3 linked regions of the Homo sapiens genome follow. The protein of the gene in region 1 purifies or fractionates together with the protein of each later gene. This does not show direct contact. Each region holds a gene or a part of one and is shown on either strand. Other genes may lie near its edges.

Region 1 (4,300 bases):
CTGAGTAGCTGAGATTACAGGTGCCCACCACAACCCTTGGCTAATTTTTGTATTTTTAATAGAGATGGGGTTTTGCCATGTTGGCCAGGCTGACCTCAAACTCCTGACCTCAGGTGATCTGCCCACCTTGGCCTCCCAAAGTGCTGGGATTGCAGGCGTGAGCCACCGCGCCTGGCCAGCCAGTTCCACTCTTACCGCTGCCTGTACCTAGATGCTCCCCTGCCCACCATCTCTGCCCATGCACACCTTCCACACCCTCCCACACCAAGGTGGTTTGCCTCCTGCTCCAGGAAGTCCCCCTGGACGGATCCTCTAGCTGGTAGTGATCTGAACCATCTCTGACCCATCCCTGGGCCCCAGTCCCACCGCCTGCAGGGCTCTAGGCCTTCCCAAGGCTGAGACCTGAGTGAGAGGCCAGCAAGGATGCCACCCAGCCCTGCCCCCCTCTGCCCACCTCACCACACTCCGCACCTCTCGGAAGGCGATGCGCAGCTCTCGCACCCCCAGCATGTGCGCCGTCTCCTCCCTCAGCTTTGGGCCTATCAGTTCTACAAACTCCTCAAAGTCCACACGGCCGCCCACTGCAGACCCAGGAAGAGTGTCACAATGGTGAGGGCATAAGGTCTGAAGCCCAAGGAGGGACATCCCACAGGCCAGGCACCCCCACCCCCAGGCTCTGCACCTAGGAAGAAACACCCGTGTCCACGCCTGCAGCAGATAGGAGGCTGGAACCCCCGTCCTTGGCTGCTGGGGTACCAGGGCTGCTTCTGCTCTTAGTGGAGAACCCAAGTGTGCAAGGAAGAGACCAGGCTTTGGAGCCAGATAGTGCCCGGTTCAAATCTTGGCCCTGCTGCTGATGTGCGTGGCATTGGCTGACTTACTGCCCTCCCTTCCTCATCCTAGGAGCAGGGTGAGGAGCCTACTCCATGGGGTTCAGGTTCATGGCCATGAAGTACTGGAGCCCAGTGGGCAGCAATAAATGCCACCTCCGAACACACCCATGTGGTCCGTGCCTCAGTTCTAAGATGCCATCAGTCACTCAAAGCACTCATGGTCACCCAACAGCTTTGGGGACAGAAAAGCATGACACCAAATGTCCAGCTCAATTGTAAATCACATCCCCATTTTGGGAATTTTAAGGAAAAAATGCAGGAGTCCTGGAATGAAGTGAATATGAGATTTGTCTGAGGACAAACCAGCGAAGGGGAACCACACAGTTCCTGCCATCAGACACTGAGTCGCAAGGCATAGGTGGGGTCCTCTCCCATCAGGGCGACCCCAATTCAGGCAGCTGCCACCAGGGCACAGGGCTGAGGCAGGGTCACAGAAAGAGAGAGAAAGAGAGAAGGTGCCAGGTGACTAGTATCAGCGGACAGCACTTTATCACTGAGTCAGGGGCTTCTGGGCCAGCGAGGCAGGAAGGGCTCGGGTGAAAGGAGCAAATGTGTATAGTGGCCATGGCAACAGACATCCCGAGCCAGGGTCCTCAACCTGAGCCCCAAGGGGCTCTCCTGGGTCTCCGGGCCGCCTTGCTGGCCTGCCTTCCCACACAGAGAGGCAGGAGCTTGAACCCGGTGCCCCTGCCTGGAAACCGCCACCCTCCCTCACTCCCACTAGCACCCCGATGGACTCCCAAGGGCCACCTCCTGCCAGCCCCTCGTGACCCCCTGAACTACGCAGGCTGCCCGGGCGGGCGGGCTCCCTGACTGACTGCGCATCTTGATGTGCTGCGAGACCTCCAGGAGCTCCATCTCGGTGGGCATGTAGCCCAGGGTCCGCATGCAGTCACCCAGCTCCCGGTGGCTGATGTAGCCGTCACGGTCAGTGTCAAACTCCTCGAAGGCGGCCTGAAGCTCTGTGGAGGAGGGAGGTCAAGCCCAGGTGGCCAGGCTCAGGGACAGCTCCCACCCCCTGCCAGCAGCAAGAGCCACTCACCGTCTAGCTCCTCGGGGCCCAGTTCGCGGTCCTGCAGGGGGAGAGTCCAGGATGTCCCCAGGGCCAGCCACGGCTCTGTCATCCTTCCTCCTTCATCCCCTGCTCATGTTGGCCTGGGCAGGGCCCAGCCCCATCAGAGTAGGAAAAGGACCCTGAAGCCTCGTGGGACCCAGGAGGAGCAAGCTCCCTTTTGTGCTCCTAGAGCCTGGAGCTCCCACAGAGCCCTGGTGTGAATTCTGGCTCTGCCCACCGCCCACGCTGGCCCGAGACCTACCCTTCCCCAAACCGCAGCAACCCTGCCCCACAGCCCAGGCTCAGTCTGGGGCAGAAGAGGCAGAGGGCCTCTCAGGGGCAGGGTGAGCTGAGCCCAAGGGGTGTGTCTCCAGCCCCACCCCCAGGACCCCCAGCCCAATCCAGGTCCCACCTAACCTTCCCGAAGACTCGATTGAGCAGGGGCCCGTATGTCCTCTGAGCAGCGTCGTGCAGGGAGTCAGGACGATGTCGGTGGGACTGGCGAGAAGAGGCCGGCCCAGGGGATGCAGGGGGTGCGCCCGCCGGCCCCTCTCCAGTGCTGGGAGGGTTATTGCTGCTCCCCGGGGCCTCGGGGCCTGTCTGCTCCCCAGAGCTGCCAGTGCGCTTTCGAGACCCTCGGAGCCCCCTCTCCTTCTTGCTCCTCTTCCTGGTCAACGGGGGCTCCTCTGCATCACTCTTGGGAGTCACAACCCCCGCAGGGGGCTTCTGACGGCCAATGGCCAGATTTGGGCCCTGCTGCCCCCTTGCCTGCTCTGTGGTCATGGGGGAGGGATAACAGGGCTCAGAGACACCACACCCCTGGGCACCCTTGGCTTTCAGGACCCATAAAGCTGCTTATGCACCCCCACTCTTAGAGCTGAGAGCCTAGGATCGGGCTCTGAGGGGGATTAGGGTAAGTGAGGCAGGCAGCCCTGGCCCTAATCCCAGTCCTCTGCCCCAGGGCTGGCCAGGGCAGAGCCAGATGGGTCCAGAGAACTGTCCTTGGTCAGAAGCAAGGGGCACCAGGACGTGGTGGCTGCCATGAGCCTCAGATGCCAGATCTGCTACTTATTAGCTGGGGGATCCAGCAAATTCCCCTCCCAGCCTCAGTTTCCCTATCTATAAAACATGGGGAATAATGCTAGAGCGCAGAAGACTCAGCTCATGTGTGACATGGGCAGAGGCCTTCGTTAGGCAGAGAGGACCAGGGAAGGCATCTCAGGTGGCAGGAGGCATGCGGACAACGGCTGGGAGGTGGGAAAGGATGAGCGAGTGGCCTACTGGGGCCCCCCCATGGGTGACATCCTGGCCAGAGCAGAGGGTGTGTGAAATGGAGGAAGAGGCCAGATCACAGATGCCTCGAATGCCGTTTTGAGGAGCACGGGGGGTGATGTGGGAGGAGGTGGACCTTGGGGTCTTAGAGTCTGCTCTGGGCTAGAGAGGCCCTGGGGAGGAGGGTCTGACTGTCCAGGCCCATCAGGGCTGGGGGAGGGGGTCTGGCTGGTCACTTGGCCCTACTGGGCCAGGGTTAGGGTTTCCCAGCAAGCAGCCCCATAAATAATTGATGTCCTCTCAGCTTGGGTTTCCTGCCCACCCGCCTTAGCGCTGCCGGGTGCCACAAAGCAGGCCCCAGTGAGGGCCGGGGGGACAGCTGGAGTGCTGGGCAGGCAGGCACGCCCTGCTCCTGCTCCTTCCACCCATCGGCCTCTGCCTCCCAGGTAAGCCAGGCCTCACTGGTCAGGGCCCCAGTCTCGGGGTGCCTGGGGCTCTGATCCAATAGGGAATGGAGACAGCAGAGGGGGTCAGCCTGAGGAGGAACCCTGAGGGTACGGAGGGCACCAAACTAAAGGCCAAGTGGCTGGAGCCGTGGGCCGTGGGCAGGGGCCAGCCCTTCAGGGCATCCGTTCCCTCCCCAGACTATACCACCACCTGGGCTCTCATCGCCCTCAAAGGGAAACTCCCTCCCCGCTGCCAGCGGGGAAGGGCGAGGTGGGGCTGCAGGCCTCTTGGATCCCAGGTCTGGGTGCCCTCCAACTCCCCTCACCCTCACCATCCCACCACCATCCCACTGCAGAGCCCCTCCCCCTCTCTTTAGCAGCTCCAGGAGACAAACAGGGGTCACCTCCTGCCTGAGCTGTGGGAAGCGGGAGAGGGCCGCGGTGGGGTGGAAGATGCTGGAGAGGCACCAGGGGCTCCTAGGATGGCCCTCCTGACCCCAGGCTGTGGGGTCCTGAGGCTCAGAGACCTCATCCTGAGCCCATGAGTGACACTCGCTGGAGGGGAGGGGGTTCCCACTGCCCCAGACTCCCTACCTTCGGGTCCCCTGGGCCCATGGGAACCAGAGCCCTCCCTT
Region 2 (3,500 bases), on another chromosome or scaffold:
AATCCCAGCACTTTGGTAGGCCAAGGCGGGCAGATCACAAGGTCAGGAGATCGAGACCATCCTGGCTAACGCGGTGAAACCCCATCTCTACTAAAAAAATACAAAAAAATTAGCCGGGCGTGGTGGCGGGTGCCTGTAGTCCCAGCTACTCGGGAGGCTGAGGCAGGAGAATGGTGTGAACCCAGGAGGCGGAGCTTGTAGTGAGCCAAGATCGAGCCACTGCACTCCAGCCTGGGTGACAGAGCAAGACTCTGTCTCAAAAAAAAGACCAAGTTTAAAGTATCACACTAGCTGATTTCAATCCTCGGTATAAAGACATGAAGCTAGATCAATGGAATGTGGCTAGGAAATTGACTTAAACATTTATGGTCAATTGATTTTCAACAAAGGGAAAAAAGTAGTCTTTCCACACACTGTTAGATCAATTGCACATTAATATGCAAAGAAATGAAACTTGACTCTTACAACATATGTAAAACTTAACTCGAAATTGTTCACAGACCTAAATGTAAGAGGTAAAAAGATAAAATCTCCAGGAAAAAAAAAGTAAAAATCTTTGTTACCTTGGATTAGGTAAAGATTCTTAGATAGGACATAAAAAGTATGAACTATAAAAGAACCTGTTAAGAAAAAGACATAAACTGACAGAAAATATTTGTAAAGTACATATCTGATTAAGGACTGTTATATAAAGAATTATAGAATTCTTACAATATTAAAAAGGTAAACCTGAACATTTAACCAGACTATATGGATGACAAAAACAAAAGCCACAAAAGATACTCAACATCATTAACCACTAGAGAAATGCAAATTAAAGGCCAGGCGCAGCGGCTCATGCTTGTAATCCCAGCACTTTGGGAGGCCGAAGCAGGTCAATCACCTGAGGTCAGGAGTTCGAGACCAGCCTGACCAACATGGCAAAACCCCATGTCTACTAAAAATACAACATTAGCTGGGCATGGTGGCGCATGCCCATATCCCAGCTACTTGGCAGGCTGAGGCAGGAGAATCTCTTGAACCCAGCAGGCAGAGGTTGCGGTAAGCCAAGATCATGCCATTGCACTCCAGCCTGGGCGACAAGAGCGAAACTCCGTCTCAAAAACAAAAAAAGAGAAATGCAAATTAAAACAATGATATATTTCTACACGCCTACCATGAAGGCTACAATTAGGAAGACTCACTACACCAAATGCTGATGAGAATGTGGAGCAATTGGAACTCTCATATACTGCTGGTGGGAATGCAGTATGGTAGAATTACTTTGGAAGACAGTCTGGAAGTTTTTTATAAAGTTAAACATACTTACCATACAAGTCAGCAATCCCACAATAGATATCTATTTAAAAGTGTTCGACCCTAGTTATTTTGTCCAAGATGTACATGAAGTTTCACTATTTACATTTTCCCTGTGGAGCCATCAGCAGTGTTTAAAAAAAAATTTTTTTAATCTCCTTCAAGTACTTGGGGAAGCCTGCCCACCTTAAACCTGAAGCAACATTAAATTACAAGAACTACACACCATCTAGAACAATTTTCCAAACCTCAAGCTGAGACTCATTAGTGCGTACTCTACCAGTTCAACACCAACAGTTGTAACAATATGAAAAAAAACAGAATGCATCCCATCTAGTAAGGTTTATATATACACCTAGAGAATCCTTTATTTTCGTTGTGTATATCACAGGTTGCCACATAAATGTACTTTTATCATGGATCATTTTTAAAACATTTTAAAAACACTGACCTAAAGCATACTTGTAACATAAGCTCCATGCTACCAGAAGCTTCTAAACCTTCTAAGCACTTATAACTTGATTCATCCTATTTTAGGAAGCAATGAAACCCACAGTAGAGCTATCATAGTGTCTATGGTTGTTATGATTACTTATATGCCTTTGGTGTCCTGCCTTAAGGAATTATCAGTATATCTTACGTTTGTCACAATTGACCGTCATTTTTCAATACTAAAATCATACATTTTTCAGCTTTCACTGAAATTTCAAGACTAAAGAAACAAAATACAAATATTTCACTAACTTTTCCCCAATGGCTAAAAAAAGAGGCAAAAGTCAGAAGTTACTAATCTTCATATAATAAATACACTGTAACTTGGCAACATATTATGAAGAACCTGGTAATCTAGAATGCAGATGTATTCAAGATGCACTAAAGAGTAATCGACACGCAAAATTATCCATTTCAGTACATACTGACTCTAATGATATTCAAAGGACACTGACTTCATAAACTCCTTACAAAAAGATGAGATTCAATCTCCACTAAAAAATTGTCACTGGCTGCCTAATCATAATTTACACATTTTATACATTATAATAAATAACTCCCTTGAGAAGTACCTTAAAATTACTTTTTTATCAATTACTATCTTTTAATTTAGAAGGGTTAGAAAGTTGTAGGAGTGTCTGTCCAAAAGGAAAGAAATATGAGTAGAAACAAGCAATGTATTGAAATAAGTTTATTTTATTAACAATGTTTATCTTTACAAAACCGTATATATATGGGATAATAAAATCTGTGTGGCTAATAAATCACTGATTTCCAAAAGCACTACTCTACACCTAGTATACAGTAATTTGAGAAACTATTACATTTAAACATTTAAACCTACAGGTATCTCTGACTTTGATAATTATTCTTTAAAAAAAAAAAAAATTCCAGGAGGCTGAGGTGGGAGGATGGCCTTGAGCCCAGGACGTGGAGGCTGCAGTGAGCCATGAGGGTGCCACTGCACACCAGCCTGGGAGACAGAGCAAAACCCTGCCTCACCCTGCCCCCCGCCTCCCACCAAAAAAAAGAATCCTACATTGAAATTTAGATAGGGCTCACAAAGATTAAAATCCCTGGCCTATCCTCTAAATCCATGCTAGTCTAAAACAACACTCTGTTGGCCCAGGTGAATCTTGTGGATTTGGGAGCTCTAAGTAAACATATCTTTTAATCATAAATAACATCTGGGAAATTATTCATCTTCATTCCCACAACATAATAGGAAGTTTTCTGAAGTATAATTTTCTTTGATGGGAAGAAAGGAGATAATTAATCAGTTTAAGTAAAATCAATTACAAAGCTTGAATATTAACATTGAAAGGGCACATGCTATGGTGAAATAACTGGAAATGTAAAGGCTACAAGAAAAATTTATCTATTTGTTCTATCCCAATTTTACTATTTAGCAGTAATTCACTGCTAAAAAATCTGTAGAAATACAAATAATGAAAATGTATCAGAAAAATACTTAAATCTACAACCCTGTAGATAGACAATCGTAATGTTTAAATATTGAAGTCTTTTAAAAAAGGAATCTATTTCCTTAGGAAAATCCTAACTTGGAATTTGACTTTTAAAAGGAAGGCTTTATAAGTGTACCATACTTTATTTATTTATTTATTTATTTATGACGCAGAGTTTCCCTCTGTCGCCCAGGCTGGAGTGCAGTGGCACAATCTTGGCTCACTGCAACCTCCACTTCCCAAGTT
Region 3 (3,500 bases), on another chromosome or scaffold:
GCATGAGCTGATGTTTCCAGCCTAATTTTTTAATCAACAAATATTTCTGAGCCACTCCCCTCCATGTATAAAACATGGCTCTAGGTGCAGAGGTTTTGTTTTGTTTTGTTTTTAAGCATGAGACTCAGTTCCCCATTGCAAGAAGCTTGAACTAACAGTGTAGAAGGCAAGTTGACAATTACAAAACAAGATGATCCACCTGTAAGAAAGGAGTGAAAAGGGTACTGTAAAAATACAAAGGAGGAAGCAATCAGCGCTACCCCAGGACCTGGTAAGGAAGAGGGGCTGTCAGGCAAGGTTACAAAGAGAAGGCAACATGTAAGTTTTACAGAGGAATCCACAAGGAAAATTTTAAGGATAATAATAAATGTTAAGGCACCATCACAATCACACACACAAAAAGCCCTGAAAAAAAAAAAGTCAGAGAAAGAGGAAGTTCTTCACCCAAGGGCAAACAGCAAGAGGAAAGGAGCTGGAAGCAACCCAGACTCTTGTCATCCAGCTCAAGGAGATTTTTTAGCTGAAATAAAACATCGCATAATATTTACACCCTTCCCCACCTGAGCTTGGGCTACATGCTCTACAAAGCAAATTAAACATCACCTGCCTGTCCTCTAAAAGTCTACAATCTAAAAACAGGCACACTAATAAATGAACAAATTCAAGAACTTTGATGACGAACTATCACCCAAAGACAGTGTTCTGAAACAAACACTTCTCAAGTTCAGTTTGGCCCCCAAAATGAGGATAATAAATTTTTGCCCTTCCCTTTGGAGATGTTAAATACCAAGGGGAAATATTAAAATTGCATGGACGGGTTCCTTAAAAGATTATAAATAGAATTACTATGTGATCCAGCAATTTCACATCTAGGTATATGTCCAAAAGAAGTGAAAGCAAGGTCTCAAGGAGATATCTGCCCACCCATGTTCACAGCAGCATTATTCACAATAGGCAAGAGTAGAAGCAACCCAAGTGTCCATAGACAGATGGAGGGAGAGGGAATGGAGAGTTAGTGTTTAGTGGACACAGTGCTTGTGTTTTGGAAGATGAAAAACGTCCATCTTTTTCATGATGATGGGGAGGGATGATGGTGATGGCTGCACAGCAATGTGAATGTGCTTATGCCACTGAACTGTATGTACACTTAAAAATGGTTAAAATGGTAAAATTTATGTCACATATATTTGAGCAAATAATACACATATACAAAGAAAGTTAATAAAAGAATTTGTGATTATGTTCAAATAGGGTGCATGTATCTAGCCCTAATTTAGCAAGTTTGAAGAAGGGAGAGATTACTGTGGAGTGGAGTGTTCCAGGACGAAGACACAGCCTCGAACCCAAGTTCTGATGGAAAACACTCCAAATCTGGGAGAAATGGTCAGGACTCAGTAAGCAGAAGTGGACAAACTTAGTTTAAGTAGAGGGTTTGTGATGGAAAGTGGTAAAAGAGTAGAAAAAAAGAGACTGGTGCCAGAATAGAATGGCTCCTTAAAAGCCAACTTTATGAGTTTGGATTTCTACCTCTACCCAGAGAAGAACCACTGGTGGCTTTTGAGAAGGGGTGTTATATGATGAACACAGTGGTTCAGTGTGGGATGGTTTGGAGAGGGAGATCCTTAGTTGATAGAAAGTGGACTCCAGGTCGCTTAACTTGAGGGCTACCAAGGTGACTACAAAGTCTACTAAATCTGAAACCTAACACGTGGTGCTGCTAGCTTAAAGCTATGACTTTAAAATGTATCAGGCCAAATGCTTGCACATGAATGGAATTCTTCTCAAAGCATACACAGAAACTGTTGACAGTGGTACCTTCTTAGAAATAGGGCTGAAGTTAGGAGAAGACTTTTACTCTTCATTGTATACCCTTGTATAATATGGATATATGTTTTAACCACGTACATGAGTTTATTTTATAATTTAAAAAGTTTTTTAAATATGACAACCAGGAAGCATCAAAAAATATTTGGGCTTTAACCAGCCAATTCAAAACATTTCTAAAAATAAAGTGAAATATATTTCAATCTTGTTTCTCCCATATCTTAATCTCCATCACATAGTATAAACGTTGTGGGACTGATCTAAAAGTAACAGTACAAAGTACACAGCACATCTAAAGCTTCGCTTCAAACAGATGTCATGAATCATCCCAAAATAAAAACATCTCCTTTTTGGTGTATTTAAATGAAAAGTCTGCCAAGACTATTCCAAGTCAACACCTCGACAAAAACAGAAATTAAAAAAAAATAGCCCATGGTACATTTGATAAAATACATCACCATCTCAGTAAACGACCTTTTTGTTCATCCAGTTGTTCAGGCCAAAAACAATGGAATCATCTTATTCTTTTTCTCTCATCCTCTATATCCAAATCTCATAATCTCTATACTCAGAACCCAACTGCATCTCACCAGGACTATCATCCTGATCCATCCTCTCGTCCTGAACCACCGCAGTAGCTTTCATGGGACTCCTTGCCTCCACTCTTGTGCCCCACAATCAATCCTCCTTAGGGCCGCCAGAAAGATCTGCTTGAGACACAAATCCCAACAAGTCACTCCCCTGCCCACAACTTCCAGTGGCTTCCTATGACACTTGGACTAAAACTCAAAGGTCACAAAGCCTGCACCATCAAGACCCGCTTTTCTCTCCAGCACTGTGGTTAGCTCTCCCCATGACACCCTGCACTCAGGCCACACTGGCCTCTTTGCTATTGCTTGGACACAGCAGTGGCCCCACGTTGGGGGCTTCCCATTTGGTATGGTTTGTCTGTGTCCCCACCCAAATCTCATCTTGAATTGCGGCTCCCATAATCCCTGCATGTCGTGGGAGGGACCCGGTGGGAGGTAACTGAATCACGGGGGTGGGTTTTCCTGTGCTGTTCTCGTGATAGTGAAGAAGTCTCATGAGATTTGATGGTTTTATAAAGGGCAGTTCCCCTGAACATGCGCCTGCCACCATGTATGACATGCCTTTGCTCCTCCTTTGCCTTCTGCCATGATTGTGAGTCATCCCCAGCCATGCTGAACTGTGATTCAATTAAACCTCTTTCCTTTATAAATTACTCAGTCTCTGGTATGTCTTTATTAGGAGTGTGAGAACAGACTACCACTCAACCTGAATCTCTTCTCCCAAACATCCCATGCCTCTCTCCCCACTTCATTTGAGTCTCAGCCCAAATGAAGCCCCATCAGATAGTGTTTTCCCAACCACCCTACCTGAAATAGTAGAACCACCCTTCTTTCCCTTCATATTGCTTTATTTTTCTTTTTAGCACTTGAAATTACAATATATATTTTTGTCTGTTGCTTGTCATTTAGTTCCTCTCTCCCCCAACTACAATGTGCACTCTACGACTTCAGACATTTTTGCCACATTCACTGTTACATTCCCTGGGCCTACAGCATGTCTGGCAAATTAAATGAGAACTCAGTAAATATTTGTTGAAGACTGACATACAAATCAAGGCCCTCAAGATCACTGGACAAAAAGAGGCT

The links. The genes of interacting proteins can lie anywhere in the genome.
Region 2: the proteins of CABP4 (region 1) and DCAF6 purify together in Homo sapiens (affinity purification with mass spectrometry; one large-scale study listed by BioGRID and IntAct). This does not show direct contact.
Region 3: the proteins of CABP4 (region 1) and SPTB purify together in Homo sapiens (affinity purification with mass spectrometry; one large-scale study listed by BioGRID and IntAct). This does not show direct contact.

The regions. Positions count from the first base shown.
Region 1 is NC_000011.10:67,453,854-67,458,153, reverse strand, and holds the start of CABP4 (calcium-binding protein 4), read right to left. Parts: upstream 2,801-4,300; 5' UTR 2,731-2,800; coding exon 2,365-2,730; intron 2,049-2,364; exon of another isoform or gene 2,018-2,048; coding exon of another isoform or gene 1,967-2,017; coding exon 1,936-1,966; intron 1,856-1,935; coding exon 1,712-1,855; intron 582-1,711; coding exon 472-581; intron 1-471. UniProt on the Homo sapiens protein: Involved in normal synaptic function through regulation of Ca(2+) influx and neurotransmitter release in photoreceptor synaptic terminals and in auditory transmission.
Region 2 is NC_000001.11:167,939,683-167,943,182, reverse strand, and holds part of DCAF6 (DDB1- and CUL4-associated factor 6), read right to left. Parts: intron 1-3,500. UniProt on the Homo sapiens protein: Ligand-dependent coactivator of nuclear receptors. Enhance transcriptional activity of the nuclear receptors NR3C1 and AR. May function as a substrate receptor for CUL4-DDB1 E3 ubiquitin-protein ligase complex.
Region 3 is NC_000014.9:64,869,908-64,873,407, forward strand, and holds part of SPTB (spectrin beta chain, erythrocytic), read right to left. Parts: intron 2,772-3,500; exon of another isoform or gene 2,415-2,771; intron 1-2,414.